Homo sapiens: one gene and its partners. The protein of the gene in region 1 purifies or fractionates together with the protein of each later gene. This does not show direct contact. Each region holds a gene or a part of one and is shown on either strand. Other genes may lie near its edges. The genes, in order: RASGRP3, ACTR3 and MID1.

Evidence for each region.
Region 2: the proteins of RASGRP3 (region 1) and ACTR3 purify together in Homo sapiens (affinity purification with western blotting; one study listed by BioGRID). This does not show direct contact.
Region 3: the proteins of RASGRP3 (region 1) and MID1 purify together in Homo sapiens (affinity purification with western blotting; one study listed by BioGRID). This does not show direct contact.

The regions. Positions count from the first base shown.
Region 1 is NC_000002.12:33,525,147-33,528,803, forward strand, and holds part of RASGRP3 (ras guanyl-releasing protein 3), read left to right. Parts: intron 1-1,990; coding exon 1,991-2,266; intron 2,267-3,657. UniProt on the Homo sapiens protein: Guanine nucleotide exchange factor (GEF) for Ras and Rap1.
Region 2 is NC_000002.12:113,928,088-113,931,744, forward strand, and holds part of ACTR3 (actin-related protein 3), read left to right. Parts: intron 1-3,213; coding exon 3,214-3,309; intron 3,310-3,657. UniProt on the Homo sapiens protein: ATP-binding component of the Arp2/3 complex, a multiprotein complex that mediates actin polymerization upon stimulation by nucleation-promoting factor (NPF).
Region 3 is NC_000023.11:10,453,080-10,456,736, reverse strand, and holds part of MID1 (E3 ubiquitin-protein ligase Midline-1), read left to right. Parts: intron 1-1,659; coding exon 1,660-1,867; intron 1,868-3,657. UniProt on the Homo sapiens protein: Has E3 ubiquitin ligase activity towards IGBP1, promoting its monoubiquitination, which results in deprotection of the catalytic subunit of protein phosphatase PP2A, and its subsequent degradation by polyubiquitination.

The DNA of each region.
Region 1 (3,657 bases):
ATCTATTTGGTCCTACTATGTGATAGGCATTGTGATACACAAGGTAAATAAGACAGAAATAGTTCCTACCCTACCTCCTGAAATAAAGTCATTGAATGACTATTCATAACACTGTGTTGGGCACATCAGAAGATAGAAAGGGGAAGACATAGGCCTTGTATAGAAATCCTCAGATTTATAACTGAATTGTCATGAATATATATATATATATTAGAAACAGTGATCATTTTCCAAACTGAGCGTTTCTGCCACATTTATTTTCATGACATGATAGTTGTTTTTCTTCTTGAGCAAAAAGGAGCATTTCATCCTTATGAAAAGATTCTCATATAAGAGTGCACTTTGCTACTTCAATAAGGACACTTTTAGCTGTGAGTTTAAAAGAAAAAGAAAAAAACTTCTACAGCAATTAAACAATAAGCAAATGTATCGTCCATCAGGCGTGGTGGCTCACACCTGTAATCTCAGCACTTTGGGAGGTGGAGGTGGGAGGATTGCTTGAAGCCAGGAGTTCGACACCAGCCTGGGTAACATAGCTAGATCCTGTCTCTACAAAAAAAAAAAAAAAAAAAAAAAAAAAACTAGCCAGGTGTGGCAGTGTGTGCCTGTAGTCCCAGCTATTTGGGAGGCTGAGGTGGAATGATCACTTGAGCCCAGGAGTTTGAGGCTGCAGTGAGCCAGGATCATACCACTGCACTCCAGCCTGGGGGACATACCTGGAAGTCCAGAGACAGAGCAGGCACGGTCTGATCAGACCTCTGACTCAGGTGCTCCGCCCGCCTCTGAATATCGGAGAGTTTTGTTTTTTTGTTTGTTTCATCAAACTGTTTCTCTCCTAATTGGGCTGTATGTAGCAACCGAAAAATTACGTTCCCTTGTTCATGAAAGTTGAAGATAGGGAAGACTACTCACTTCAACTCTTCACCCATAGAATTAAAGACCTTTTGAGCCAACTCAGGTCTTAGGTCCATCCCTGGACCAATAACAGTTGCCAGAGTAATACAATGTACTGATTGGCTTAACCCTGAGTTCCTGAACTAATCACAAACTAGAAGGATGCAATTACTCTGATGATAAATCAAAACCCATTCCTGGTTCTGGAAATGGAAACAGACTCTGTCTGAGTCACAAGGGCTGCTTTGGAGAGAGCAGACTAATCAAAATTGGGGTCTACTAGAAAGGTCTGGTTGCTGTGAAGCAACCAACGATAACTTGTCCATATAAACAACAGGAAGTAAGCCACAGAAGTACCGTTGTTTGACCTCAAGCTCTGTACTCATTCCAAGTGTAATGGAACTTATTAGGTAATAAGTGTTTCATTTTCTTTTAGCTTTGTACCAGATCTCAAGTAAAAAGCAAAAACAAATTTTAAATGTTGTGAAGAATAAGAATCTGATAGAAGTTTATAGAGGCTTGGAGAACTACCAGTGCATCTTTTAAAATTATGTATCGGAACTTCTCTTACTTACAGAGAAAGAAACTGAGGCCCAAAAAAGTGAAGTGACTTGCTCAAGGTCACCCTTCTAGTTAGGCAGAATATAGAACCACAGCTATCTCACACCGCATTGCAACTTTCTCTACCCCATACTGTCCCAAATTAACCTCGAGTAATATCTGGAATGCAACTTTCTTGGAACAAATAACAATTTTAATATTCGACATGCTTGAATTTGCGGACAGTAATATTTTCATAAATTTCCAAACACTTAAGTATACATGATGCCATTTAATATCCCAACATCCCTAGTAGGTAGGCAGACATGTAGGCTATTTCCATTTTATAGCAAAATGGAACAGGCTGCTCAATGCATAGCCAGGCCTAGTACTTTTTCTAACTTTCTTTTTCCTGATTCATATTTCCCTGCAGCAACATTGGTGCAAGTGATACTTTTCTCAGTAGCTGAGGAATTTCCTAGCCACACATTGCAGGGCCCGGGGGTGTGCAGGAGGGAAAGTTGTTTGAAAATTCTACTTTTCCATCTGTTCCCAGAACTGGAATGAAATGACAGAGTTGGTCTCCTCCAACGGCAATTACTGCAATTACCGCAAGGCCTTTGCCGACTGCGATGGCTTCAAAATCCCCATCCTTGGAGTACACTTGAAAGACTTGATAGCTGTCCATGTCATTTTCCCAGACTGGACAGAGGAGAACAAAGTGAACATTGTGAAAATGCACCAGCTCTCCGTTACCCTGAGTGAACTAGTCTCCCTGCAGAATGCCTCTCACCACTTAGAACCCAACATGGATTTGATCAACCTGCTCACGGTGAGTTCCAAGGAGCCAAGTTTGGGCTCAATAATTCTTCTGCACCTTTCTTTCCAGGAGACACAGGAAGATGTGTGCCAGCAATTCATTCTGGGGGAAAATTGGTTTCAGAGTCAATAGATGAGAGGAAATCTCATAGAACAAGGGAAAAGGAGCCCTGATTAATATTTTCCATAACCAGCAAATCTTGGGGCAAAGAAATCTACCTTTGTTCGGAGGGGCCCAGTCTCTGCCATATGACTCCACTTCTGGAGTTCTTAGGCTCCTCCAGACTGTGCCTCAGCCCTCACTCTCCTTCACCACATTCATCCAACTTATCACATCCTTCTGTATGTCCTCCAGTCATCTGCTCCTCTTTATCCTCACTGCACTGCTTTGGCTGAAGCCTGGAGTAATGCAAGGACCTTATCTGTGATCCCCCTGTTCCCATTATGAACCTCCCAAACCTCCAGGATGTAGTTTACAGTCTGGCATTCGAGGTTCTTGAAGACTCAGTCTCCAACCTTCTTTGCCATCACCCTATCCCACATTTTACCAGCCTTTGAGAAATATTGAACTTCTTATACTTTCCACCCCATGAAATGCTGTCTTCTGCTTCCTGGCCTTTGGACTTGCTTGGAGAATCCCATCCCAACCCATCCATGTGGCAAGTTCAATTTCAAAAGCCTGTCTTTCTGGAGCATTCTCTCTCCCCCTCCATAGCAGTCATGCATCTGTCACATCACCCTGGCACTTTATATTTTCCTTAACTATAGGAGGTATCACTCTTTATTCGATTTTTATCTGTTTATCTGCCTTACATATCATATGCCTAGCACCTCTCACAGTTCCTGGCATATTTGGGAACTCAATAAATGAACTGCATGCTGTATTTAGGAATGATGTGGCTTAGACAAAAGAAGTTCACCTACCACTCATAGTTTTTTGGCATTTGTGGCACACATGTTTAGCTGGTCTCTGCATCCTAGAACTTTTAGACACAACGGTGTATAGAAGAGAACATTTCCCACTGGCTGCTGCTTTGTGGGAAGAAGAGGCATAACAAAATTCACTCACCCTTCCTTAAACAAAAGTAGAGGTGCAACTTCCCTGTTTGGGTTTATAACACTGTAGCATCTGAAACTCAGCTGCAATACTGAATTAACTGTTTTCCTTGTATGGCTGTGGAAAATGAAACCAATAACTCCTCTTAATTTCTGAGAGCCTAAATCCCCTAGGTCTGCTGCATTGGAATAGGAGTGTGGTTTCTCGCCCTTCTCACAAACTGTTCCTAGACCATGTAATTGTTTACCAAAGAATAAACCCCTAAGTGTAGGCAATAATGCAGCTATACCCTTCAAATAAAGCAGAAGTGGCCAACACACAGAAACACAGATCTCTTAAAGTTGAGT
Region 2 (3,657 bases), about 80 Mb from region 1:
GAAAAATGAGAATTTCCCTTTTTACCTTTTCTCTCCCTCAACACAAAATACCTATCCTTTCCCACTCCTCGCATTGTAGTTACATCACAATTTTTGGTTAAATCAATATTCTGTGTCTTTCGGTGATTGTGATGGACTATAAAGTTGAAAGAACCATACTATGGACACTCATACACCCACAATCTAGATTCGATGATTAACCTTAACATTTGGCTATAATTGCTTCATGACGTCTATCCATCTTTCACTTCATTTTAGTTTTTAAATCACTTCAAAGTGAGTTGCAAATGGGAGTCATTTGACCCCTAAATACTTTAGCACGTATTTCATCAACTAGAGCTATCATTTGTGTATGGTTATTCTTTTCATATAAAATTTACATATCATAAAATCACCGGTCTGCACCATTCAGTGGATTTTGACCAGGGTTTGGCAAACTTTCTAAGGGAGCAGATAGCAAATATTTTTGGCTTTGCAGGGGTTATAGTCCCTGAGGAAACTTAATGAGAACTTTTTATACAATGGTCCCTGTCACAGCTACTCAGCTGTGCTGTTGTAGCATGTTAGCAGCCATAGACAATACTTAAATTCATAGGTATGTCTGTGTTCCAATAAATTTTTTTTTTTTACCAAAACAGGTGGTGGGCTGTATTTGACCTGCAGGATGCATGATGTGATTTGTCCAATCTTTGTCAGTTACATACATCTGTGTAACCTAAACTCTTACCAAGATATAGAGAAATTACTATCAGCGTGGAAAGTTTTCTCATGCCCTTTTGTAATTAATCTCTGCCCCCGTGCCCTAGTGACAACCACTGTTTCTTTTTCATCTGAGATTAGCTTTGCCCATGTTTGAGTGTCAAATAATGGAATCATGCAATATGTGCATTTTGGTGAAACACTTTTACTTAGCATAATCTGGAGATTGAATTATGTTGCATATACTGGTGATTTGTTGCTTTTTGTTGCTGGGTAGTATTCCATTGTATAAATTTGCCTCACTTTATCCATTTTCCTGTTGATGAATACCTGGGCTATTTTTGTTTTTTTTTTGTTTTTGTTTTTGTTTTTTTAAGACAGGGTTTTGCTCTGTTGCTCAGGCTGGAATGCAGTGGATCAATCATGGCTCATTGCAGTGTTGACCTCCCAGCTCAAACAGTTCTCCCAGCTCAGATTCCTGAGTAGCTAGGACACACAGGCCCGGGCCACCACACCTGGGTAATGTGTTCTGGTTTAGAGATGGAGTCTCACTTTGTCACCCAGGCTGGTCTTGAACTCCTGGGCTCCAAGTGATCCTCCCGCCATGGCCTCTCAAAGTGCTGCCACCATGCCTGGCTTAGTTCTAGTTTTTGGTTATAATAAAATAATTTGACCATTGTGAACCTTCTTCTACAAGACTTTTTGTGGACATATGTTTTCATTTCTCTTGTCTAAATACGTAAGTATGGAATTGCAGCGTCATAGGGTAGGTACCTGATTGGTTTTTTAGGGAAACTCATGGGAACTTTTCCCAAGATGGTGAACCTTTTTGCACACCCCCCAGTGATGCATTAGTAATCTGCTTGCTCTATTCAAGATTTGGCTTATCAATCTTTTATACTTTTTTTTTGAGACAGTCTTGCTCTGTCACCCAGGCTGGAGTGCAGTGGTGTGATCTTGGCTCACTGAAACCTCCCCGCCTCCCAGGTTTAAGGGATTCTTGTGCCTCAGCCTCCTGAGTAGCTGGGATTACAGGCATGCACCACCACACCTGGCTAACTTTTGTAATTTTAGTAGAGACAGGATTTTGCCATGTTGGCCAGGCTGGTCTTGAACTTCTAGTCTCAAGTAATCTGCCCACCTCGGCCTCCCAAAGTGCTGGGATTATAGATGTGAGCCACTGCGCTGCTAGCTTGTCAGTCTTTAAAATTTTAGCCGTTCTGGTGGGTGTGTACGATTTTTCATTTGCTTTTAATTTTAATTTTCATTTTCTGATAATTATGTTGAGCAGTCTTTCATGTACGATTGTTATTATTAGCTATTTGTATATTTTCCTTTGTGGGGTCCTCTGATTATCTTTTATGTAGATTTTTTTTCTTGGAGTTTATAATTTCACTGCCTTGGTTTTTAGTTTACTTAATTTTGTATGTATTCATCAGTAAATTATCTCCAGACTTTTAAACATAGCTCCAGAACTCTTCTAAAGAAGTTTAAACACCACAGGGAGTTTAGCTTATAAAGGTTTTATGTAAGGTAACAGTATACTTAGTTGTTTTGCTTTATATTTCTTTTGAAATAATAATTTTAAAAATATTTAATTTTTAATGGATTCAAGTTTTATCACTTTTTCCCTTTGTGATTTGTACTTCAGAAATTTAAGGAGTTATTCCTACCTTAAGGTCAAAAAGAGAATTCTGTGTCTTTTTTAAATTTAAAAATTTTTCTTTTACATTTAAGTATTTGAGATACCTATTAGATTGCCAGTCAGACTCACAAGAATCAGAGGTCTTACCCAGTGTTAATCTTTAAAAATTGAAACAGTTTAAGTGATCATGAGGCATAGGTGAAATATGAAGTCCAAGACTGCCAGATCTCTGAGTCCTTCCTTGCCTCTTTAGAGTGTGTTCTGTCCCAGACTTAACCTGTGAGGTTTCTAAGTGATGTATACAGTCACATAAACAGAAGAGTGCTCTGCAAACATCTTGATTCTATGCTCTTAACAGGTAAATTAATATAACATTTTTCAGAAAGCTGTACCATTAGATCTGTAGAATCTCGGCTTGTTTACTGTAATCCTATATACTTCGGGGACATTCATCTAAAAGCATTACTTAGATGAGGGCTCTCCCACTGGCAAATACCATTGATGTTTTTTCTGGAGGTTTGTCATTACCATATTTAAAGGATGATTTGACTGGACCACCTTTTCCCTACCTCCAACCCTCTCTCTCCCTGCTTCATTTCTTTTTAATGTTTAATCTGTATAAGTGGTATGATATAGGCATTCAGGGTATTTTTTTTTTAAAATGTGAATTACCATACTGTTTTCATATATGTATGGATGTTTGAATTCTCTATAGTTTTCCTTTGATCTCTGTGTCTGTCTTTCTACTTGTAAATTTAATGCATTTTAAATAAAATGTTTGAAATAAATTACTTCTCATTTAAAAATTGTCAAGAAAGTTATCAAAATAATCTGATATTATCTATTTAAAATGTTATTTATTTCAATAGACTGAACCTCCATTGAATACTCCAGAAAACAGGGAATATACTGCTGAAATAATGTTTGAGTCCTTCAATGTTCCAGGCTTGTACATTGCTGTGCAGGTAAGCAAGTTCATACTTTCTAAGTTTGATTCTTACATTTTAACCTAGTTTAATTTGCTGCCTAAAATACGTACTTTTTTTTTTTTTCTGCAAAGGTTTAAACATAATGTCAAAGCATGTTATACTTCTCTCCTGAATTGTTAATTTAGAAGTAATATTATGGGAAGTGGAGATATTTAGTCAGGAAAAGAGAAGTGTTAAAAAAGTAAGTTAGTGGTGTTTGGGTATTTCAAGGGCTTTCATAGGACAGAAATGAAGGAACTAATATTTATGGAATGCTTTCTCTGTGACAAGAACATTGTATATATATTTATCCTTGTAAATAATCCTTTATCATTTATCCTTATA
Region 3 (3,657 bases), on another chromosome or scaffold:
GCCTCCCAAGTAGCTGGAATTACAGGTGTCCGCCACCACACCCAGCTAATTTTTGTATTTTTAGTAGAGATGGGGTTTTACCATGTTGGCCAAGCTGGTCTTGAACTCCTGACCTCAGGCAATCGAGCTGCCTTGGCCTCTCAAAGTGCAGGCATTACAGGCATGAGCCACCAGCCCAGCCTAAGCTTTTCTTTGATATGTACAGAAATAGATTTCTAAAACAAAAGCCAGCTAACTATAGCTCAAGGGCCAAATCTGGCTGCCTGATTTTGTAAATAAAGTTTTATTAGCATATAGCCACACCCATTCATTTACCTATTGTCCTGTCCGTGGCTGCCCCCTCACTATAGCAGAAGAGTTGAATAGTCACAAAAGAGACCACATGGCCTGGCCTGCATAGCCAAAAATATTTACTGTCAGGCCCTTTGCAGAAAAAGTATGCTGGTCCGTGACCTAAAAAGAAAGGATTTTAGAGGTGCTGGTGTTGTGTTGTGTTTGTATCCAAAAGGCAACTGGAAATCCTTTGGCCTACCCACATGTGACAACACACACTGTCCTATACTCACTGGGTCAGTTTCTCGCCCAGCATCGTGTATTGCCACAGTTGAATTTACTAGACCTTTTCCTGTGATTGAGAGCTGTATACTGGGCAGAAGGAACCTGCCAACTGCAACAGTGACTGTGGAGTTTGGACACCATGGCATTTGTATCAGGTTGCAATGCATTTCCTGCCTTTAAACGCCTTGTACCCAATGCAGTGTTGAATGACAGGCAGTACTCCAAACCAATATTGAATTGTCAAAGAAGAAGTAACAACTATGACAAAATGTCCAGGTGTGACTCTGCCAAGATTTTTTTAATACTTAAATCTTTAAGACACAAATGTGAGTAATGAAATAGAGAAGGCCTTATTATATATAAATAATTTCATGAGTAGAAAACCCAGGCATTGCTATCACATTTTTTCCTAATTTTGTGGCCTGAAAATTGTATTCTCATCCTAAATTCCTAAGAGTAATGCTTTAATTTTTAATAATCTCAGAATAATATAAACCTCTAGAATATTCTATATGTTAAGACCCAAGATCTTGATTTGTTTGGTTTCTGGTCTGAAGTCTATTGAGCATGAATGCATCTTATGCTGGATAGAACACTGCAGTGGTTGAAAATGGAGTCTTCATTCATTCCTCCTTTTCAGGATGCTATCCAGCCAGTATGTACCTGTGCTGCTTGTATACACCTGGAATCCGTGAAGCTAGCTCACCCTATGTTTTCTGGCTAAGCCTTATCCATGCTGTTGTTGAATAGTTGGCATGCCACCACTGGATCCCTATCTTAGAACTGGTAGACTGAAAGCTTATGAAGACAGGAACATGTTCTTTTTCACTCTTACTGTGTACTGTACTATACACAGAGTTGCTGCTCTCTATTGTCTTTTGAATATTATGAAAACTTTGCAAGCAAATGTCTTTGAAAGTTGCTTATAATGTTTAAATTACTATTAAAATATAAGATACCACTTTGTGATAGGAGGCATGACTCAGGGAGGGCTGGCTTGTTCCTGTCTTTTAAACCTGATTTTGAAAATATGCTATTGGTTATGATAAAATAAACAATCCTCTTCCTCTTCCTTTTTCTGTTTTGTGAATTTGTTTTCAGGCCAACCATTTAAACTGGATCCCAAATCTGCTCATCGAAAACTGAAGGTGTCCCATGATAACTTGACAGTAGAACGTGATGAGTCATCATCCAAGAAGAGTCACACACCTGAACGCTTCACCAGCCAGGGGAGCTATGGAGTAGCTGGAAATGTGTTTATTGATAGTGGCCGGCATTATTGGGAAGTGGTCATAAGTGGAAGCACATGGTAAGCAACTTATTTCTATTGTCCTGCAGTTATAAAAAGGCACATCTCATTCTGTACTTAGAGAGTCAACCCATACTGTAATGCATCTTAAAGAATAAAATGCAGAAAAGTTGTATTAGTCAGCTCTTGCTAGGATAATACTGCATAACAAACACCCCCAAACTCAGCAGATTCAAACAACAACCATATATTACTAATACCCACACCTGTGGGTTCTCTGTTCAAGATTATAGAGCTCTGATCATTGGATGAGCTATACCATGTTAACACTGCTCTTTCATGCCATGAAACATGGGTTGGCAAACCACAGCCCATGAGCCAAACCTGGCCTGCTACCTGGTTTTGTAAATAAAGTTTTATGGGAATACAGCCAGGTCCATTTTTTTACATATAGTCCATGGCTGCCTTTCAGCCACAACAGCAGAATCGAGTAGTTAAGAGAGAATCATATGGTCTACGAAGCCAAAAATATTTACTTACTTTCTGGTCCTTTCCAGAAAAAGTTTGCCATTCCCTACTTTTAAACATCACTCTTCATCATTACACAAAACTAATTTCTGTTGCCTTGTATGTTTTATGGTTCTAGACTGGACCAATTAGTGCAAATAGCTAAGGGTTGAATGGTGGGGGTGAAGCAGTGATCATAGGCTGGGAATAATTTCAAAAGGCCTGTTAGATCCAGCCCAGTGACTTTAGCCCACTGAGTTCTCTAAGAATAAGGGCAAAGGTCAGGACACAATTACATTGGAATTAGTTAACCTCACAAAGTTAACCTTGCCTAATCCACAGCCACAACTGCACCCCTTTGACCGTCTGTCTCACAAATGCCTGCTTGCTATTGATCAAAAAGGGAGCTATTTTATTTTTATTTAACAAGCCCTCATATGGTACAAGTATGTGCCAGGCACTGGTCTAAGCATTTTACAGATGTCAACTCATTTATTCAGCCTTACAGCCCTACAAAGGTAGGTGCTAATATTATCCACTTTACTGATGAGGTGACTGAGGTATATGCTGAAGATCACAGGGTTACAAAGCTCACAGGTGGCAGAGTCAGTAAGTCTGCAGTCAAGGGTCAGGCTCTTAACCAGCAGTCCACAAACATTATCTGTAAAGGGCCAGAGATTCAATATTTCTGGTTTTGCATGCCAAATGATTTTTGTCACTAATACTCGACTCTTCTGTTGTAGTGGGAAAGCAGCCACAGACAACACCTACACAAATGGACATGGCTGCGTTCCAATAAAACTTCATTTATAAAAACAGGCAGAGGGCCAGAGTTGGCCCCTGGGTAGTAGTTTGCTGTTCCCCGCTCTTAACCACCATGGTATGCTGCTATTCACAAAAGGGTGGTATATTTTTGAAATGCTATAATTACTCTCTAGGGTTTATGACAGTGTACGTAATGAGTGATAGCTGAATCCTTGCTTTAAAAAATAAAATCAACATTCAAAATTGCATAGCCTGAAGATGGTGAGTATAACAGTGTTTCTTTCAATATAAGCATGATAAAACACTTATTTATATATAAAAAAACCTTTCAATTCAAACCTATGCAAATAATGTGACATGGCTGAGTCCTTTATATTGTAGGTAGAAATTAGCCAAAAATCTAAGAAGTGAATTGTAAGCTTCCCATCTCTCCCAATAATGGTACATACTATATTGGCTGAGCGAGTAGGTTTTCCTTTGTTGCTATCCTCATAATTCTCTTTGCCTAGAAGAGTTTTCTGTTCCAACATCCTGCCAGAGGATGGAGGACAAATCCTTCACCCCACTAGGCTCTGGGC